Linked DNA regions of Homo sapiens: region 2 is linked to region 1. Evidence: fine-mapped expression QTL. Tissue or cell type: coronary artery. Region 1 holds a variant in brackets; the other region holds the start of a gene. All regions are shown on one strand. Distances are between the middles of the regions.

Evidence for each region. PIP is the estimated chance that this variant, and not a neighbour inherited with it, causes the effect.
Region 2: it holds the start of DNAH10, and the variant in region 1 is fine-mapped to the expression of DNAH10 in coronary artery (GTEx, PIP 0.97).

What each region holds. Positions count from the first base shown.
Region 1 is chr12:122,896,168-122,904,428 of GRCh38, forward strand. No RefSeq gene overlaps it. Among named protein-coding and RNA genes, the nearest start is that of VPS37B, 4.2 kb to the left of the region's middle. RefSeq lists a silencer at 1-100. The variant G/A (reference allele first, on the strand shown) is at 4,504.
Region 2 is chr12:123,757,407-123,765,406 of GRCh38, forward strand. DNAH10 (dynein axonemal heavy chain 10) reads left to right here and starts at 4,895. Exons shown (of 79, transcript NM_001372106.1): 1 at 4,895-5,144. The coding sequence starts at 4,931. ATP6V0A2 (ATPase H+ transporting V0 subunit a2) reads left to right here. Exons shown (of 20, transcript NM_012463.4): 20 at 521-4,349. The coding sequence ends at 626. It overlaps LOC105370044 (a long non-coding RNA gene), which reads right to left. Exons shown (of 5, transcript XR_945481.4): 5 at 7,762-7,842. RefSeq lists a silencer at 4,476-4,895.

The sequences.
Region 1 (8,261 bases):
CAGCCCTGGGTCGTGACGTCATCACCGCGCGGGCGGGCGGACGTGACGTAAGTGTCGCGGCTCGCTTGGAGTGGAATGTGTCAGGGACAGTCGGGACTTCTAAAGGGAGGGGAAGGGCCCTATGATTGGGCTGTGACGCGTGAGCGCATTAATGACGTCACTGCGGCTCGGGAGAGCGCGCCATGAGGTCATAAGAGCCTTTTTCCTCCAGGAAGAGAGATACCGCGATCCAAGGAAAACAGGCAGTGGGAAGGAAGTTCCCGCAGCCTGTGAGCCCAGCCCGATGCACGGAACCCAAAAGACAGAGACTTCATGGGGAAACAACTTTAGGTGTCATTGGTTACTTGGAATTGTGGAGCTGCCACGTCATTCATTTAACAAATATGTTTTGAGACCTACTCTGTACTGGGCATTGAGTATACAGTTCTGAATAAAGCAAAACGGACCCCTGCTTACATGGAGCTAACAGAATGAAAGAGGACGCAAACAAAACAAGAAATAAGTAAAATAATTAGGCGATCACAAATAAGGGAATGGACACTGAAATAAGAAAATAAAAAGACCTTTAGGGTAGTAAGAGATGGCACTTTCGGAGAAGGTGGCGTCTAAGGAAATGTGAAGGATGAGAAGGGAGGAACCAGCCACCATTCCTGTAGGAAGCTCAAGGCAGCAAAACCAGCACGTGCAAAGGCCCTGGGACAGGACTAACTTGGTGCATTCAGGAATGGGAAGAAGGCCAGTAAGGCTGGAGCATTTTGAGCAAGGACCCATTGAGTGGCCCCTTTGCATCACCTCAGAGGAAGGTGCCCAGACATCCAGGTGGGCCAACCTGTGCTCTTTCAGAAACAACACGATTTAGGGTGCAGTCGCTCTCAGTCTCTCAGCTACCGGGAAGCCTCTTAAGATCCAGGAGCCTGGGAACTCATTATCCTACTTTGGAATCTGTCACAGTTCTAGTTAGAAGAAACCTAAGGCTGAGGTTAACCATGACAGCCCCCTAATTTTACACATAAGGGAACTGAAGCCCTGAGAAGGGGAAATTTTTTGGGCTTTTGCTTTGTTTCTGAAAATCAAGTAATTGGCAGGTCTCCTGGCTCCCAGTCTGGCGTCCACCACGCTGGCATCATAACACACTGACCTCGTCTCATAACTCAGCTCTGAACACAGTCGAGGCATTCAGCAAATGCTTATCGGCAGACTTAGGGGCTTTGTGTATAAAGCTGATTCTTCTGCAACTCCATGGGTAAAACATAAGGTCTGTGTTCTCCATCCATACGTTAGGCTGGGCTCTGCCAACCTCTTCTCTCCTTCCAGCCCGTTGTACTAAGGGCTCGTGTTTGCAGAAAAATGATGAAAGTTAGAGGAACTATTGCTTTTTTTATTTTTTGAGACAGAGTCTTGCTCTGTCGTCCAGGCTGGAGTGCAGTGGTGCGATCTCAGCTCACCTCAATCTCCGCCTCCTGGGTTCAAGCGATTCTCCTGCCTCAGCCTTCCAAGTAGCTGGGACTACAGGCATGCGCCATCACGCCAAGCTAATTTTTGTGTTTTTAGTCGAAATGGGGTTTCACCATGTTGGCCAGGTTGGTCTCGAACTCCTGACCTCAAGTGATCCGCCCACCTCAGCCTCCCAAAGTGCTGGGATTGCAGACCTGAGCCACCCCGCCCGGCCAAAAGAAATGTTTCATATAATCCGTAAGCTAAAGGTTTTTTTTTGTTTGTTTTGTTTTGTTTTTTTTTTTTTTTGAGACGGAACCTTGCTCTGTCGCCCAGGCTGGAGTGCAGTGGTGTAATCTCAGCTCACTGCAAGCTCTGCCTCCCAGGTTCACGCTATTCTCCTGCCTCAGCCTCCCGAGTAGCTGGGACTACAGGCACTCGCCACCCCACCCAGCTAATTTTTTGTATTTTTAGTAGTGACGGGGTTTCACCGTGTTAGCCAGGATGGTCTTGATCTTCTGACCTCGTGATCCGCCCACCTTGGCCTCCCAAAGTGCTGGGATTACAGGCATGAGCCACCGTACCCGGCCAAGCTAAAGGTTTTATTGAGCTCAAAAGGACACTCGGTAATTTTCTTCCTTCTAACTTGTTATACTTGGTGAAGAAAGATGGCTCTAAGGAGGAAAGGACACAAGTGGGAAGGAGATGTAGGAAGCTGGCGTTTCTTTTTTCCTTCTCCCTCCAGGAGAAGAATAGACCTGTCAAATTGAGAATAGTAGCTCTATTTCCAGGAAATCCTCTCTATGAGGCTTAAGATGTCCAGGAATTTCTCATAGTCCCCACAGAAGGTGAGAATAAGGTAGGGGTCAGAGCTCTCCAGAATCTAGAGGGATGATGTGATTTAACCAAGAACATACCCCAGGAACAAAACTGGCTTCAGAATGGCATACCTATATACAGTGACCTCTAAACGTACTAAGTTTAAACACGGCTCACTTGCCACCCTTGCCCAGTCCTTTTATAACTATTCTCATACTTGCTATCTGCCACCAACCTATTGGAGTCATACACCACTTCCTTTGTTAAACAGAGCAAACCACAAAATCATCTTGTTTTCTGCTGCTCTAAAAACTTCTTGTCATTCTTAAAGGGGATTGAGAGAAGAAAAGAAAATGTCAAAGCTTCCTTGCATCAGTGTCAAACCTGTCAATTTAATGCATGGATGGATTTGCATGTCTTTTTCCTTTTATCGGTTGGCTGATATTTGGGTTTCTTTATGCACCTACATCTGCTTGTAATGCTTGTGGGTTAACTAAGAGTTTGCTCTGGTGAATCAAGGGCAATGTATGCATGTGCCAGAGCTTCACTCTCAATGGGAGCATTGTTGCCGTCTGAGCAATGAGTCTCCTGTTACACAATATTGGGAATTGTTTGGCAAGCATACTTAAAACACACACACACACACACACACACACACACACACACACACACACAACCTTTGCATAGTTGAACCTAAAAATCTTCTAGCCTTGGGATTAGAATTCTTTCTCTCCCATTGGTAGATTTATCCAGAAATAATTTCCAGTTTGAGACGCTGGGAAAAAATGTATTAATAAGAAGGTGTCCATAGCATAGCACACATAGCTACAAAACTATGTGTGCGCACTAGAGGAATTATTCCCCCAGGTGTCAGGTGGAACAGCCATGCTTCTCTGGGGACTCACAGCCTGATGTCACCACCATGTCACTGTCATGTACTAATACCTACATGTCCAAAATGACCTACATACTAGTCATCCAGAAAAAAGAAATCGTTTTAGATACAGTCTCTGCTTTGGAGAGCAAGAGAAGATATACAAATATAGAATAGTATTTTTAAAATTATATTTAGGGTTGATGTTATTTTGGTGTGTTATAAAGGTAGGGGGCCAGGCCTGGTGTCTCACACCTGTAATCCCAGCACTTTGGTAGGCCAAGGCGGGTGGATCGCTTGAGGTCAGGAGTTCGAGACCAGCCTGGCCAACGTAATGAAACCCCATCTCTACCGAAAATACAAGAATTAGCCAGGTGTGGTGGCATATGCCTGTAGTCCCAGCTACTTGGGAGGCTGAGGCAGGAGAGTCACTTCAGCCTGGAAGACGGAGGTCTATAGAATGGTCATAGGAGGGGAGGGTGAATAAATGACATTATGAGAACTTAAATGTCCAACACTATGGGAATGGTTAAGTAAATTGTAGTAAATCTGATCAATGGTATATTTTCAGCCATTAAAATAAGATACGCAAAGACTATGAAGCTACGTGGAAAAAGCAACATGAGTTAAGGTACAAAGGCAAAATATAAATGTAGGCTGGGCATGGTGGCTCACACCTGTAATTCCAGCACTTTGGAAGCCTGGGGTGGGAGGATCCCTTGAGTACAGGAGTTCAAGGCCATCCTGGGCATCAGAGGGAGACTCTGTCTCTACAAATATAAAATTAAAAAAAAATAGCCCGGCACGGTGACGCATGCCTGTGGTCCCAGCTACTTGGGAGGCTGAGGTGGGAGGATTGGTGAGGCCCAGGAGGTTGAGGCGGCAGTGAGCTGTGGTCGCACCACTGCACTCCAGCCTGGGCAAGAGATTAAGACCCTGTCTCTTTCTCTGTCTCTCTCTCTCATTCTCTGTATGTGTGTGTGTCTGTGTATATATATCACATGTATAATGTGTATACAGACTGATTATAATGAACAAGCTATATTTCTATAGGACAAAGACTCGAGGGTAACAAAGTATTTAAGTTGTTAGTGGAGAAGTTAGTGATTTTTTTTTTAAGGTTACAACAATGCTTGTGGATTGAAGTTTTTTTTGGTTTTGTTTTTGTTTTTTTGAGACAGAGTTTCGCTCTGCCGCCCAGGCTGGAGTTCAGTGGCATGATCTCAGCTCACTGCAACCTCCGCCTCCCAGGATCAAGTGATTCTCATGCCTCAGCCTCCTGAGTAGCTGGGATTACAGGCACATGCCACCACACCCAGCTAGTTTTTATATTTTTAGTAGAGACGGGGTTTCAACATGTTGGCCAGGCTGGTCTC[G/A]AACTCCTGATCTCAGGTGATCCACCCACCTTGGCCTCCCAAAGTGCTGAGATTACAGGAGTGAGCCACTACACCCGGCCAAGGATTTTTGTATTTTTTTTTTTAACTAAAAGGAAGAAAACGAATATAACTAATGTAAATGTAGCTGCTCACAACCTCAAGAAAAACAAAAAAGAGTTTATTAAATATCACTGGCAAAACCAAAATGGTCACCAACAAAAATAATAAAATCCTGCAAACCCAAACTTACGTGCTGCACCAACCCACAATAAATAAAAATGTATTGGGTGATATGCCATGAAACAGAGCAGGGCAGATTTTCACAGCCTGATTTTCACTAAACTCCCTGCTGGAGTGTTACTGAAAATTCACTTTTCTTACTATTTACTTAAAGGAAGATGGGGGTCTTAATCTTGCTCTTTTTTTTTATCTCTCAACAAAAATGCTTCTGTTTTGCATCATTATTTCATATTTAAAAAGAGGTGATAAAGCTATTTTTACCTCTTGTGTTGATCAACCCAGCCAGGGAGAACAACTGCAAGACCACTTAACTTTTTTTTTTTTTTTTGAGACGGAGTCTCACTGTCGCCCAGGCTGGAGTGAGTGGCACAATCTTGGCTCACTGCAGGCTCCGCCCCCTGGGGTTCACACCATTCTCCTGCCTCAGCCTCCCGAGTAGCTGGGACTACAGGCGCCCGCCACCTCGCTCGGCTAATTTTTTGTATTTTAAGTAGAGATGGGGTTTCACTGTGTTAGCCAGGATGGTCTCGATCTCCTGACCTCGTGATCCGCCCGCCTCGGCCTCCCAAAGTGCTGGGATTACAGGCGTGAGCCACCGCGCCTGGCAAGACCACTTAGCTTTTGCTTCCCTTATGAATGATTTCTCTGGTCACCCCTAGAGAGGACCCCAACTGTTTTCAAGTCCCAGAACCTTGCTTTCCTCATTAAAATAGCCTTCAGAAAGTGGCCCTGCAGCATTTTTTGCCTGATTTGCCTTGACACCGCAGATAAACCACAGAGGCAACAGCCTGTTCTCTGCTTATATGCATTGCGATAAGCCTGACAGTTTCAAGAAGATTAGGTTCATCCACTAAGAAATTAACTCAGCTCTAACATTCACCTCGAACCCTGACAATGTTGAAAAACCTTACGTCTAAGTGGTTATAACACTTGAGTTGGTTTACACATAGGTAAAAGTACAAAGACAGGATTTCCAGGCATTGGGTTTGCAAATTCTCTAGAGAGAAACTAGAAACTGAAACCCTCTCAAGGTGGTTTTTTGTTTTGTTTTGTTTTGTTTTTTTTTAGGAAACCTTTATAGGTTTTTGTTTGCTTGCTTCTTTAGTTACAAAAGTAATTTGCACCTTGAATTTCTTAACTGAGTCATGGGCTTATATTATTATCTATTCCTTTTGATAAATTTGAACTATTTATAATAAAATATACAAATTAACATCCAAATACTTAAAAATAACGTTTGTTTACTGTAAAAACTGTCTAAACTGTGAGAAGTGTGTAAGCTGAAAAGTTAACAACAAACCCTATTGAACCCATGTCCCAGAGGTAGCCACAGTGATCAGTTTTGTTTCGGTTCTAGAATTTTTAAAAAGATAAACATGTACGGGCTGGGCGTGGTGGCTCACGCCTGTAATCCCAGCACTTTGGGAGGCCGAGGCGGGTGGATCATGAGGTCAGGAGATCGAGAACAGCCTGGCTAACATGGTGAAATCCTGTCTCTACTAAAAATACAAAAATTAGCCGGGCGTGGTGATGCATGCCTGTAATTCCAGCACTTGGGAGACTAGATGGGAGGATCACCTGAGCCCAGGAAGTCGAGGCTGCAGTGAGCAGTGATCGTGCCACTGTACTCCAGCCTGGGCAACAAAGGGAGACCCTGTCTCGAAAAAAAAAAAATTACCTGGGTATGGTGGCACATGCCTGTAGTCCCAGCTACTTAGGAGGCTGAGTCAGGAGGATTGCTTGAGCCCAGGATTTGGAGGCTGCAGTGAGATATGATCGTGCCACTGCTCTCCAGCCTGGGTGACAGAGCGAGACCCTGTCTCAAAAATAATAATAAAATGGCATAAAATAAAATTCAAATAGTAGATAAGGGGGTCAAACAAAAACCATTAACAACTTGTGTTTCCTTCCAGAAGTTTTTTCAGTGCTTATTCAAGCAACTATATTCATATCCACCCTCCTACCCACTTACTTTTTTTTTTTAAAGCAAGAGAGATCACACTCTACTTATATGGAACGTGTCACTTTGCAATCATATAGCTAAGGACAAATCAATATAACTCCTTAGCGACATTAGCTGACCCATAGCTGGTTCCAAAAACTCTTGAAACCTATTCAACAGGTGTTGCCTGAATTTACCTTTCCCCTAGTAGTGCTGAAAATAACGTTGGTGTTTTTTTTTTTTTTTCCTTTGAATTCCATGCAGGGTGTTTTCTTCTTTTTTTTTCAAGTGAAGATTCTTCTCAGCAGAAGGTGTTAATCCAGGCACTAAATCTGGAACATTCTAATCACTGTGAAATTTTGCATGTCTCGTCTTAGGCAGAAAATGTGTGAAGATACCAGTTTATTCTGCTCTTACCTTGCGGTCCTTCTCGAGGTGATTCTGCATATGCTAATGATCTTATGTCAGCTCCCACCTCAGTCACCCCCACCTCTTCACCTCCTGGACCTGTTGCCCTCAACGTCAGTGCTACAGAAACCCACCTAGTTTACGCTCTTCTTTCAAGAGGGGGGTGCCTTATCTGATGCACTCGAAATCTACTCCCTCCTCCCAAGCCTTTCTATTTATATAACTGCATAATGTTTAACTGTACAGGGAAGCTATGAATCCTGTATTCATTTCCTATGCTGTGACAAACAACCACTAACTTAGTGGCTTAAGCAACACTCATTTCTTCTCTTACAGTTCTGCAGGTCAGAAGTCCAAAATCACGAAGTCCTAAAGTCAAGATGTTGGCAGCCCTGGTTCTTTCTGGAAACTCAGAGGGGAGAATCAGCTCCCTTGCTTTTCTCCCAGCTTCTAGGGGCCTCGGTCAATCTCTGCCTGTTTTCAGATTGCCTCCTCTGACCCTGACGCTCCTGCCTCCCTCTTAGGAAGCCTTTTGTGATGACATTGGACTCACCTGGATAGCCCAGGCGCCACTCCCCACCGCAAGGCCCTTCGCTTAATCAGACCTGCAAAGACCTTGTACCACACAAAACAACGCTGGCAGGGCATGAGGATGTGGGTGTAATTGGGGAATTATTATTTAGTCTTCCACGCCATCATCCTTTACAAATAAATAAATTAGGACAAAGAAACTAAGTTCTCCTTGGCCACCAACTGTTCATCCTTTCTCCCCATGGGCGACCACTGTTAACACTCCTTGGTGTGAATTTTTCCAGACCATTTTTATTCTTTAACATATATACATATGAATGCACAACAGATTTATTTAGTGTTGTTTTGGGTAGTATTTTTGTTAAAAAATATGGCATCCTATTCTGCAACATGCTTCTGTCTCTGTTTTGAAATCCATCTCTATTAATACACGTAAAACTAGTTCAGCTACCACTTTTAAAAAATTACTTCTTATTGTGGTACAATATACATAAAGTTTATCATTCTAACCGTTATTATTTATTTATTTATTTTTGAGACAGAGTCTTGTCTGTCACCCAGGCTGGAGTGCAGTGGCAGATCTTGGGTCACTGCAACCTCCACCTCTTGGGTTCAAGCAATTCTCCTGCCTCAGCCT
Region 2 (8,000 bases), 860 kb after region 1:
CTCCAGCCTGGGGGACGAGCGAAACTCTGTGTCAAAAAAAAAAAATGTATTTTGATTCTGAACTATTATCACTGACAAGTAAAAGTAAGTTTAAGTTTGCAGAATACTAACGTATGTTTCATACTCCTAATTCACTTTGGGTCTGACAGGTTGCTCTGTCTTATTGCAAGATAAATCCTTCTTATGTATTTCTTAATGTTTTATGGTGTAGGTCAGATTACTGCTCTGTGCCTCCAGTGACTCAAGTGGCAGGAGAGGGTCTCGTTACTTGTGCACGTGCTTTTGTGTGTTGGGCAGTGAGAGACAGCGGATGTGTCAGAGTTTCTGTTCACACTGGGAAAGCCAGCACGGGGTTGGGGGTGCGGGGCAGTGTTTAGCTAAGTAAAAATATATGTGCCAAGAACATATTTTGGAATGAAGCAATTTCAGCACAGGAATTTTTTTTTTTAACTTATAAATGTTGTTTTAAGGAATGTGATTTCATAATCTTCCATTAATACATGGCTTTTTTTTTTTTTAGGGTAGAATTTCAGAACAAATTCTACGTTGGTGCAGGCACCAAATTTGTTCCTTTCTCATTCAGTCTACTTTCATCAAAGTTCAATAACGACGACAGTGTGGCATGATCATATTGCTGTAACCAACAAGCTTTCAGATTTATGGAGAATGACCATGTTATAGACTTTCACTTATGTCAGATTTATGATAGGAAAAATTCCATCTTCATTACTGCCTTATGACATAGCCAAATAATTCTGTAAGATATACCTCTTCCTCATATGTTAAATATTTTGTAAAGTTTACCAATTTGAGATATAAAAATTTCTTTTGGTTTTTTATGATGAGCAAATATAAGTTAATGCCAAACGTTATGTTAAAGTTATTTTTTCAAATACAGGATTTGGGGAGAGAAGCCAATTTTGCATGGCTAGTTGAAAATGGTATTAGATACTTATTTCCTTTAAACTTTATTTAAAACAAACAACAGAGTTAATCTGTCACCTGAAGTTGCCAGATAATATTTTCCAACAGCTGAAGTAGGGATAGTTTTTTAAAAAATTTAATGATGGGTAATCAAAACATTCACATTTATTCTGCTGGATTTAAAAATATGTACTTTTTTTTTTTTTTTGAGATGAAGTCTTGCTGTGTCACGTAGGCTGGAGTGCAATGGCACGATCGTGTCTCATTGCAACTTCCGCCTCCTGGATTCAGGTGATTCTCCTGTCTCAGCCTCCCGAGTAACTGGGATTACAGGCATGCGCCACCGTGACCAGCTAATTTTTTTGTATTTTTGTAGAGATGGGGTTTCACCATGTTGGCCAGGCTGGTCTCGAACTTCTGACCTCAAGTGATCCACCTGCCTCGGCCTCCCTAAGTGCTGGGATTACAGGCGTGAGCCACCATGCCTGGCCAAAATATGCAAATATTTTTTATCCTGTGCTACCTAGAATTACAAGTAGAGGATTGTTTTTACAATTTTGTCTTGTTTTAGTAATTGGGGACAATGGGATAAAATGACATACAACAAATGGTTATCCCACTTGTATATTTTTTTAAAGACTCTTATCCTGTTACCCTTACATAAAACCAGTTATGATAATTGTATGTTTGGAAGATAAATTGTATGCTGAGCCTTAAAACCCAGTGTGACTGTAGAAGATATAATGCGGACATGATTTGAATTTAGTGACAGCTTGGCTGATGTCACTGAACCAGAAGGGTTTATACTGAGTGAAGGAAAGGTAAAAAGTAGTATTTTGTATATTTTTGTAACAAAATATAAATGAAGATATTTTACCATGAAGAGATTGCACTTATCCTTGAGAACAGTCTAAATATAAATGAAGATATTTTACCATGAAGAGATTGCACTTATCCTTGAGAACAGTCTAATGATACTTTTTTTACTTTCAGACTGTTTCTAGCTAAAGTTCTGATAAAAGTATTGAGTTAATTTAAACTTTCAAACACTGTTTAGATCAGTTGAAAACTAATTCTTAATAGCCATTGTTTTATAATCTTTAGTTTAAATTCATCTGTTTGACATTTGGTTTTTTGTGAACTTGAGTCAGTCCTATTGAACATTTTGACCTATATTCTTGCAAATTATGTTAATTTTTCATATTTTAGTTTGATTTTAGACAATTATTTTCAAAAAGAAACCTGACTTTTTTTCACCTTCTTGACATTGTGAGTGATACACGTTAAAAGGCTATTTGCCCGCATCCTCCTCTATCCTGTTTCGAGGTAGAGAGCTTGGCACTTCTGTTACAAGCTGAGAGTCTGGAGGTGCTGAGTTTAACGTGGCTGTGCAGCTGATTTCAAGGCATGAGCTGAACAGCGTTGACACAGCCGTGACTTACAATTAAACCCTTTCAATTACAGTACAGATTCTGTGTGCTACTTGATGAGATGTTACCCAAGGCCAGTTTGGACTTACTGCTTTTTGTCCCTCATATTAAATTATCAAATGATGCCGATGAAATGCTTGAAAATGATTCTGCTCTCAAAGTTATGCTTCCCTAGAAAGGTGTCATGTCGGGCACTTGTGTTGGGTGACTATGACATCCCAGCAGTGCTGGTCAGGTCTCAGAGTTGCTTTCACCTAGAGCTGATGCTTCCACAAGGGGACATTTGTGTTACTTTGCTCCAGGGGTCTGTCATAAAAACAATGGTAACTACTTCATCCCTAGGAAGCCCAAGACTTCAGGGCACTGTTAGCTGATTGGTAAATAAGGGACACGATATTCACGGGAATTGTTTACTGCTCCCCACTAGTAATTCTCATGGGGCCACTTTTTTAACTCTTTCTAATTAACACCTCTTCTCAGCATAGAGCAGAGGATGCAGTCATTTCTCTGTTGAAATCTATGTAGTATTTATGTAGAATGTCATTATATGAAAAGCGAATTCAGAATCCTAACTCTGGGAAAGCGCTCTCTGGAAATGTAGTTTGATAATAGTGTCTTATAGGGGCCACGGGAATTTGTTTCTCTATAAAGCGATGGGCTCCAGTGTCATGTTACCAGAGTTATCGCTCAGTTTTGTTTGTTAAGGCTTTTGCTAGAACCTATTATGTATCCAGTTTTTAAAACATACTTCATTCCCTTGATAGCAGAGATCCAGAGCACAGATGGCAAGTTGTGTGGATGATACTGAATATGTTTATTTTCCTAAAGATAAATGTCACGACACGACATTTCTCAGTTTTTATTTAGATGTTTATTACCATGTGTTAACAGAATCTTAAAACCCAAGGGATTTCTTCAGTAAACTAGACTTTGATTCAACCTGCTGGGCTGGAGACTGTAATTGCCGTGGTCAGTTAAGGAGTGCAAAGGGTGTTCTGTCTGATAGGATCTGGGTGAGCCCTGCGGACTTTCCAGCAGCGAAAGGACTTGGAACTCCTCTTTCGCTGAATGCTGCTCTGTTTCTGGAATGGATATTTTATAACAACATTCTGGTGTCAGCATCCCCTCAGCAGTTGTTTATTTAAAAATTTTTTTATTTTTTTTGAGACAGTGTCTCACTCTGTCACCTAGGCTGAAGTGCAGTGGTGCAGTCTCGGCTCACTGCAACCTCTGCCTCCTGGGTTTAAGCAATTCTCCTGCCCTAGCCTCCCGAGTAGCTGGGATTACAGGCGCCTGCCACAGTGCCCGGCTAATTTTTGTATTTTTAGTAGAGACAGGGTTTCACCATGTTGGCCAGGCTGGTCTCAAACTCCTGACCTCAGGTGATCTACCCACCTTGGCCTCCCAAAGTGCTGGGATTACAGGCGTGAGCCACCGCGCCTGGCCCTCTGCAGTTGTTTAATAAGGCACAGAATACCTGTAGCATAGGTCAGCCTTACGATGTCCATGAATTACATATTCAGACGTTTTAGAGCCTGATACATTTTGGAAAAGAAAAACAACTTCTACACCTATTCTACAGTCCGCATTTAAAACAATAAATTCCTCTATTAAAAACGTAAAGCCGGGTTTGCTTGCGTGCCACAGGGAATATATCCAGGAAGGTTATTATGAAGCTGTCAAATCAAGATGATGGGAATAAGGCAGTTTGAACGAACAGTCTTCCCACAGTCAGGCCATTTTTGCTGATTTGGTTTAGAATTTTCAGAAATACTTAGTACACTCCACCTGTTCTTTGATGGGAATATCTAAGAAGGCTAGGTAGGTTCTTAGGGTTAGCCTGAGTCATCTAGGGGCTCAACTCCTTGTGAGGGGAAATGACAGTGAACAAGTTAGTACTTTGCTCCACAAATGCATGAAAGGACAAATTTGCATCTTCTATCAGTATTTAACTTCCTTTTGCTAATGACAAATAAATATATCTATATTTTTAAACGTGGGTGTTTTGCTTTATTATGCTCTAGTTTGGCAAGAAAGCTAAAGAACTCTGCTCCTTCCCTGATTTTGTAGGCCATGAGGAACTCGTGCTTTCTCGGCTTATTTCCTCCTCGTCTGGCCTCTAATCCCGCCTCTGCCACCGCCGAGGTGCTGTGACCTTCGTCTCGCCAACTCTCTAGCCCCAGCTTCATCTGCAAGGTGGGCGGGCTGCTTGCAAACCGGTCGGCGTGGGGTGGGGTCGCACCCTCGGCTGCAGCGGCCCGAGGGCGGCTCCTGGCGGCGAGGGTCCCGCTCCGCATCCAGGGGCGTGCGCGCTGCCGGGGCCAGGGAGCAACCAGCCTACCTCGGCGGCCCGGGGGCCTGGTGCGCGCCTCCGAGATCCCGGGGCCGGGGCGTGGGCTGCGGCTCGCGGGTTCGGGATCGAGGGGCCGGGCGCGGGGCACTGCCGAGCTTGCAGCCCCCAGCGCCGGCGCCGTCGGCGGGGCGAGCTGCGGCCGTTTCCGGGGCGCCCATTGCTAGGGCCGCCGTTGCCACGGACGCCCGCCCTGCGCCCGGCTCCCTCTGCACTGCGCGGCGCCATGGACGACCTGCGGGTGCTGTGGATGCGCGACCGCGTGTATGCGGCTTTCGGCATCACCGACCCCCAGCTTTTCGAGGACCTGCTCAACCGCGACGACGGCCAGGGCGAGGACCTCATCTTGCACTTCCTCAACCAGGCGAGCGAGGAGGAGGGGCCCTCGGCGCTCTTCATCTACCGCACTATGGTGCCGGAGGAGGTGGAGGTGGAGATTGGTGAGCCTCGACGCGCCGCTCCCTTCCCCGGGCTTCCCTCCTGCCCGTCCCGGCCTCTCCGGCGGGCGCCGGGGCTGCTAGAGCCTGCCCATCGTCCGGCCCCGGCCTCAGGTGCTGTCCACAAACGCTGCCGCCCGCCACGTGCAGGCCCCGGGCGAACCCAGCAATCACAGCCGTCCCTGCCCTCCTGGGCCCACAGCCCACTTGAAAGTCAGGCCTTGATTGAAAAATCACAGCAAACACTGACTTAGCCCGCACCCCGTGCCAGGTGCGGTTCCAACGCTTGTATCAACTCCTTAACCCTACGAGGCGGGTGTATCCTCATCCCTATTTTACAGATGAGCAAACTGGCACGGAGGGGGTTAAGTAACCTGCCCAAGGCCCACGGGGCGTCAAGATCCACTGTGCAATAATCCGAACGGCTGGGTAGAGCCATGCCCAGGTGTGGCAGGGACCCAGGTCACTGTCACTCTCCTTGACGGTCGCAGCCTCTCACGGAGGGTCCGAAGAGCACCCCTTTCTACTTCTGGAGGCTCCTTATATCCTAAAAAGTAAAATAAGGCTAGGACAAAGTTTAAAAACTACAGTAGACTTTAAATGTTTATGTTGAACAAATTAGCATCGCAAATACAAAAAGACAGTGACCAGGGTCCCAGAACCCTCTGTGGAGGCGGATCCCCAGCCCCACCTACTCTCTGATAGGCCAGGGACACTGAGAGGGCAGGGAGGGGCCAGCACAGGTGAGAGGAGGAGGCAGGACAACTCGCTTCAGAAACAGCTAGAAGGAGACTGGGACCTCGAAAGCCGCCTCCTCGCAGGAGCACCAGCTGGAGCACAGCTACCGGGACCTCCTGCCTGGCTGTCCAGTCTCCTGGGCTACTTTTCCAGCCCCTTAAGGACTTGGGGATCCCTTGCAGGGCCTCTCACTGGGTTCGGGTGGCAGGGCCGGCAGACCTTTGATTTTTTTTTTAAAGGTACCAGGCAGATTCATTTATTGTATTCTATTTTTTAACTTTTTTTTTTTTTTTTTTGAGATAGGGTCTCACTTTGTCACCCAGGCTGGAGTGCAGTGGTGCGATCTTGACTCACTGCAACCTCTGCCTCCAGGGCTCAAGTGATTCTCCCACCTCAGCTTCCTGAGTAGCTGGGACTACAGGTATGCGTCACCATGCCTGGCTAATTTTTATATTTTTGGTAGAGACAGGTTTCACCATGTTGCCCAGGGTGGTCTCAAACTACTGAGGTCAAGTGATCCTCCCGCCTCGGCCTCCCAAAGTGCTGGGATTCCAGGTGTTAGCCATCTGGCACCTGGCCACTTCTTTTTTTTTTTTTTGAGACAGAGTCTAGCTCTGTCGCCAAGGCTGGAGTGCAGTGGTGCAATCTCGGCTCACTGCAACCTCCACCTCCCTGGTTCAAGCAATTCTCCTGACTCAGCCTCCCAAGTAGCTGGGATTACAGGCACCCATCACCATGCCTGGCTGATTTTTGTATTTCTAGTAGAGACAGGGTTTCACCATGTTGGCCGGGCTGCTCTTGAACTCCTGACCTAAAGTGATCTGCCCACCTCGGCCTCCCGAAGTGCTGGGATTACAGGTGTGAACCATCGCGCTTGGCCACCTTCATTTATTTTAAATATTCATTATTTGCTTGCACAAAATAAAACGCCTTCATCATAAATCCAAAACCATAAATAAACAACAATAACAAATCCCTAGTGCCATCTGGAGAGAGGACCACGTGATCACGTTTTGGAATTTAACCTTCCAGCCTATTATTTTTTTCTCCCTGGCAGACCTTTGGACCTGAACATTAGATTATAACTGGACCTCGGATGTAGGCACTTTCATTGGCACCAAGTGAAATTATGGAAACCAAAAACACACTCGCAGGATTGACCGTTTAACATGTACCACCACTGCAGGAACTCGGGTTTCGTTTACATTAAAAAAAAATTACAAGACCCTAAAACAATGGATGTGACTTGGATTTCTTGCAGAAGCCCTCCAAGGGCCTCTGTTAACGGTGGGGTGGCTGTTGTCTGCTGTGTTTACTAGCACGTGTTTAGCCCAAATGTCATCCAGTGTGGAAGCAGAGTTCAGTCTCACCTCAGAGGGTCCCCCTGGTTAATTCCTGGACCCTCCAAAGGGAGCTCAGAACTCCCCCACCCCGCCCCCTGACCCGTTTCTGGGCTGTCTCTGTCCCTGGTCTTCCCTTCCATTCCCGTCCCTTCTCCACTATCACCTCATGGTGAAAAGCTGATGGATTCCTCGCCGAAGATGCTGTCTCTGGAAACTCTCAAAGCTGCCGATTCTGGAGGTGCCAGATGGCGTCGGGTGTTGGGGGTTCTGGCCAGGTGGGGAGAAGAGACCTCATCCCCAACTCCACACGTTGTCACTCACTCTCTGCTTGTTAAACCTACAGGCTCATATAACCCTTGAACAGTTTCCCTAGATTATTTTTGGGGGACAGGTGGTTCTGGTCTGTTCAGAGGACCTGCAGAGAGCCCAGCGTGTCCTTTGTTTCCTTTTTTTTCCTCTTTCTGCCCCCCTTCCCCGGTCAAGATTTCTCTCTGCTCCTGGTTAAAAATGATAGGAATGGAGACAAGCAGATACTGGGGCAGGTGGTGGTAATAAAGGCGAGGTGTCCTTCCGGGCAGCAGATACCCAAGATACTGATGCAGTAGGTACATGTGTTCCTTCTGGAAAAAACAAAACGGAATCGTACTGTACATATCATTTAGTAACTTCCTTACATTTAAAGAAATTACACAAATACTGCCATAACACATGTTCTCTTATGAATTCACAGAACATAGAATTACATATAAAAAGAAAAAGCAACGCTTCTCCATCCCTT